Linked DNA regions of Homo sapiens: region 2 is linked to region 1. Evidence: fine-mapped expression QTL. Tissue or cell type: whole blood. Region 1 holds a variant in brackets; the other region holds the start of a gene. All regions are shown on one strand. Distances are from middle to middle.

Region 1 (2,760 bases):
CTGTCTCCTGCTCAGAAGTTTCCTCCCCCCACCCCTGGCCTTTCCTGGTCGGCATCAGTGAGCTCAGGGTCTCCTTGCAAGGGGGCTGGGCTCTCTGACTAGAGGCATGCTGCTGACCTAGAGATAATTAACTGATAGTTTCTACCACGACCTGCTGACCCCTTTATAGGAACCACTGTAAAGATAAAAAGACTTTCTGTTTTCTTTTTTCTTAGCATCTCCGGTGCCTGAAACCTTCACAGTCATCATGCTATTTCGTGTTTATCATTAATCTTCCTGTTGAAAGCATCCCCTTTTCTCCCCTCTTGTTCCTGCCCTGGCCCATTTGCAGTTCAGGTGATCGACCCTCTCAGAAAATGCTCCCTGTGAAGCCAAAATGTGAGTGAGTTAGACTGGGCCATTTCCAGCACGCCCCTCGTCACCCCGTGCCTGTGCAGTGTCACCTACTTCTGATAACAGCCTTGGACTGAGGGCGCAGGAGAGAGTGGTTTTATGCCACAGATACTTCATTCGTCAATGCTGTCTTCCAAATCTTTCTCCTCATGTCCATTATCACAGGCCTAGAACAATTGTTTTTATTAGACAGTTTAATACATTGCCTCTTAGACCAGCAGGCGAACCCGAGCATCTTTCTGACTCCTGTGCTGTCATTAACATGCTTCTTAATTCAGAACAGCTGTTCCTCCTCCCACTCCTCCTCTCTCCCAATCTTTGCTCCTTAGACAAACTTTGCTTATTCAGAAACTTTGGGAAAAAAGATTTTTGAGTAAATGAGAGTTCTGGAAACATAAGGATTTGTCTCTTTCAGCATGGACTTTTTAATTTTAAACATTTTTGATGAAAATCTTTCCAAAATACATTGTTTAGTACCTTCTTAAACAGAGAAAATGGATGAAATTTAATTTTTTTCTTGATGCCTTGGGATCATGACAGTGAACAAGATTTTGTTACTCTGCTGCAATGCAATAGGGCACATAAAGGGTCCCAAATTTTCAGATTCTGAAGTTATTTTGAAAACTTTTAAATATACTCTCGTCTCCCTGCTTTTCATCAGTCCATTGACCAATCACTCTGGTTATCAATGCACCTATTTCCAGAAATTCTTCTACCCTAATTTTCTGATGTTCAGTGTTTACTGTGAGCATAGAAGACCAATATAGACACACACTTACACGTGTGTGCATGCAGATGTGCATTAGAACTGTGTGTAGAGAGGTTTGAGGAGGTACCTGAGAGTTTCCTATGAGTAAATGGAATATGTTATGAGTTCTCTGTTTTGGTTTTCCAGAGACTGCTTTTGTTAAATTTTTTGCTCATTTTAGGAATAGAAAGTTGCAAGACAAATGAGTTTAATAATGATGAAAAGCTCCCAGATTTCTAGGAGCTATCTATCTTTCTAGAAAGTTCTTCCTCGGTTCATTTTTTTTTTTTTTTTCACTTAATGCAAGTATAGGCAATGGTTACTAAAAGGAGATTCCTTTTATGAGAGGCTTGTCATTTCATTATCCCAACTTCACATACAAATGATTTCATTATCTTTAAAAATGTTGTCGTGATATTCTCAAACTATTGTCATTT[A/T]AAAAAAAAACCCACCAGGTGCAAAAACAAACTGCAACCACAACAGCTAAATCTGTCTCTTTCTCTCATTGTCCTCTTTGGCAAAGATCTGTGGAAAGCTGAATAAATGAACAGGGCCATTTGACAGAGTGTAACCCACACCAGACCTGTTGTGCAATGCCTTGAACGTAAGTCCTTTTCAACTAAACGGAGGTATATTTTCTTTTATATTGTTGACTTTGACCCTGAAGCTTAGCAAAGAACACTTGTGCAACATTTTCTGGATCAATTTATCATCTGCTCAGAGCAGACATGCATTTTTTCTCATCATTAAAGGGAAACCAAACCCATCAACATAATCCCCGATTCTGCTTTGTTTCTTCCCAGTCCTTCACATTGTAGATTCTGAAATATTAATGAAGAGATGTGAAAGTAATGTGCTCTATTCTCACACCCAGCCCCAGTGGGAGGAAGGATATGGCCAGGGAGTAGGAGAATGAGAAATGTCCTCGTTTTGCAAAACAACGTTGCTCAAAGTCAGGTTGTTGGATTCTATCTCTGAATATCCCAAGGTGGTGATCTAAAATCCAGATTTCTGGGCTAATCTATACCTATGGAATCAATATTTCTGGAGGATGAGGCTTTGTCATTTACATTTTAAATGGATGCATTTAAAACTGATTGGACTAGATGGTGTCCGAGCTTTTTCCTTACTTAACAAATCCTATGCTGCTGGCTCTTATGTGAATACTGATAATAAACTGCTTACAGGCTGGGCATCATGGATCATGCCTGTAATCCCAGCTATTTGGGAGGCCAAGGCAGGAGGATCGCTTGAGCTCAGGAGGTTGAGACCAGCTTGGGCAACATAGTGAGAACCTGTTTCTATGTAAAAAAATTAAATTTAAAAATGTACTTACAGAATACTCATAATGAACTTTATTATTGTAAGAATAATAACTTTTGACTGTATAGCAGCATTTTTAACTTTTCAAAGTGTTTTCCTATTTTCCTATATATAACCCCCCAGAGGGGGGCAGGGGAGGTCTCATTACCTCCATTTTAGAGATGTAATAAAGTCCCCGAAGCTTAATGACTTGTGCCAACTACATCATAACTTAGTGGTCAGGAGTCAGGACTGGCACACAGGTCTTCTGACCTCATTTCACTGTACATTTGGTGTTCTAAGATCCAAGACACAAG
Region 2 (2,760 bases), 63 kb after region 1:
AGGGGGCGGGGGGGGGGGCAGCGGGGGAACAACAAAAAAATCCCAGCATAATGATTATTCCCAGGGACCGTTGGGTTTTTTTTTCCCCAAGGCGGCCGAAAAAACAAGTGCTCCCCTTCCCCGGAAATGAGATGCACAGGGGTATTCATTCCATTCCGCGGCTGGGAAGCCCCTGCGGAAACGAGTCTGGCTGCATGTGCGGCCTCGGTCCCAGAAATCAAAAAGAGCGTCCCCTGAGCCCACAGCTTGCTCCTCCATGTGACCGGCCCCTGGGCTGGTGGCCACTGTGGACGCGCCCGGCGCCCCCTCTCCCGGCTCCCTGCGGGTTCCGCGGAGCCGCCGGCGCGCAGCCCGGCCAGGTGCACCCGGCACGGCCCCACTAACAGCGCGCGCCTCCAGCCGCCGGGCACTGGCGGCCACGCGGGCGAGATTTACGGTGGCGCTAGGCGGCGGCTTCCGAGGCCGGCCGGCGCCCAGGCTCCGATTACAGGTTCACACTGGGGGCCCGGCCGGCGGCCGCCCAGCCCCCGCCGGCGCGCCCTCGCGCGGCCCGGCTCCCCGCCTGCCCATTCTTCTCCATTCATGCGGACGCCCAGCGCCGCCGCCGCCGCCGCCAGCGCGGCCGCCGCCGTCGCCGTCGCCGGCCGCCCGGATTGGCTGGCGGCCGCGGCGCCGGCACTTTCCCACGGCCCGCGGCGCGTGCGGCTCACCGGAGGCGCTGCAGGCTCGGCCCTGGCGCGCGGCCAGGCCAATCGGGGCGCGCGGGGCGGGGAGGAGCCGCGGCCGCCGGCGGGCTTGTGTCCCGGCCCGGCCTCCCGCGCCTCCCCGCCGCCCGCGCCTCCTCCTTCCCCTGAGTGCAGGCTGGACAGAGCCCCCGCGGAGCCGACGCACCGCCGCCGGGCAGGGGCGGGCGCGGAGGGCGGGGGCGCGGTCCGCTAGAGCCCTCGGCCTCGCTCCCGCCCCTCCCCGGAGCGGCTGCCAATCAGCGGCGCGAGAAACCGGATTGGCCGGGGGGCGGCTGTTGCCCTGGAGTTGCCGCCCCGCCTCTCCGCCCCCTCGCCCGCCTTCCCCACTCCCCCGCCCTCCCCAGGGCCCTGGGAAGGGGCTCAGCGTGGGAAAGGATGGTTGAGTTTTAACCAGAGGCAAAGCGTGAGCGGGATCAGTGTGTGCGGAACGCAAGCAGCCGAGAGCGGAGAGGCGCCGCTGTAGTTAACTCCTCCCTGCCCGCCGCGCCGACCCTCCCCAGGAACCCCCAGGGAGCCAGCATGAAGCGAGCTCACCCCGAGTACAGCTCCTCGGACAGCGAGCTGGACGAGACCATCGAGGTGGAGAAGGAGAGTGCGGACGAGAATGGGTGAGCTGGCGGCGGCGGAGCGGAGCCGAGCCAGAGCGGGAGGCGAGCGCAGGCCTGCCGCGGTGACAGCGGGCTAGGACCCTTGGCGCGCCGGTGCCCTGCGCTGACCTCCGCGCGTCGCAGGCTGGCGGCAGCCTGCGGCCAGGGAACCCCTAGGTGCCTTCCAGCCCAAGTGGCAAAAAAAGTCTGAGTGCGGGGAGGGTGTGGGGGCGACCTCTCAGATCACCTCTCCTCGTTTAACGGCGATTTCAGTTTTTGTTTGTTCTTTTTCTCTTTTCAGAAACTTGAGTTCGGCTCTAGGTTCCATGTCCCCAACTACATCTTCCCAGATTTTGGCCAGAAAAAGACGGAGAGGAGTGAGTCTCTTTACACTCTCCTTTTATTTTTGTTATTGATTAACGGAAATAACCACCTTTTTTTTTGTCTTTGAAATTTACAGTCGTAATGGTAATGCCTTCCTTTGTTTTGCTTGCCTTCTGCAGATAATTGAGAAGCGCCGACGAGACCGGATCAATAACAGTTTGTCTGAGCTGAGAAGGCTGGTACCCAGTGCTTTTGAGAAGCAGGTAATGGAGCAAGTAGGTAAAGCTCTCAGCATAGCTATCTGCACCTTCTGAATCTTCCCCTCATTAATCTCATCCGCCTTGGAAAATAGCTGTGTTGCTTGTGCCTAGATGAATTCGTACACAGATACCAGCGTATTTTGTGAAGACAACTGATTTTGCTTTAGTCCATGCTTTACGATTTACAAAGCATGTATCTTTGTATATATGTTTGCATATTTTAAATTGTTCCCCAAAGGAACTTGTGCCAAATCAATCTTTTGCCATTCTCATCTTTAGGGATCTGCTAAGCTAGAAAAAGCCGAGATCCTGCAGATGACCGTGGATCACCTGAAAATGCTGCATACGGCAGGAGGGAAAGGTACATCTCCTAGACCTAGTGGGGGCTCTGAATGGTTGGCAAAGAGTGAGCAGCGGCTGAAGGCCAGGATTGGTGCAGTAGCTGCCTGATTTTTCTTTGGGGGTGGGGAGAGAACGGTGTGTGGTGTGTGCAGTTCCCTGTCAGTACATTTTCGAATGCACATAGAATCTTCTCCAGTGAATTCACCACCCCAGCTCTCTGCGGATTGAGCTAGTGCATCTTTTGGAAAAATACCTATTATTTGTGAGGTCTTCAAAAGTTGTGACAGCCCTGATTCAGATCAGGTAGCTTTCACATTTGTCCATTGCTATTTTGAGAAAAAGCATTTAAAAACAATATGTGGTCTTATTTTTGGTATACGGGATTTTAAAAAAAAGGTGCTGCCACATGCCTCTTGAGGAAAGAAATGTATTCTGGTTAAGTAAAGGAAACCTAACGGGAGACCAAGGTCTGTGTGTATGTCTCTCCAGCAGGAAAATGCT

Evidence for each region. PIP is the estimated chance that this variant, and not a neighbour inherited with it, causes the effect.
Region 2: it holds the start of HEY1, and the variant in region 1 is fine-mapped to the expression of HEY1 in whole blood (INTERVAL, PIP above 0.99). The same link has a PIP of 0.9 or more in neutrophils.

The regions. Positions count from the first base shown.
Region 1 is chr8:79,829,486-79,832,245 of GRCh38, reverse strand. All of the region lies in intron 2 of LOC101927040 (a long non-coding RNA gene), which reads left to right. Among named protein-coding and RNA genes, the nearest start is that of LINC01607, 63 kb to the right of the region's middle. The variant A/T (reference allele first, on the strand shown) is at 1,579.
Region 2 is chr8:79,766,169-79,768,928 of GRCh38, reverse strand. It overlaps HEY1 (hes related family bHLH transcription factor with YRPW motif 1), which reads left to right and starts at 1,162. Exons shown (of 5, transcript NM_012258.4): 1 at 1,162-1,354; 2 at 1,635-1,710; 3 at 1,837-1,920; 4 at 2,197-2,278. The coding sequence starts at 1,266. LINC01607 (long intergenic non-protein coding RNA 1607) reads right to left here and starts at 787. Exons shown (of 4, transcript NR_125410.1): 1 at 711-787. RefSeq lists silencers at 1-159, 260-619, 660-1,139 and an enhancer at 1,590-1,639.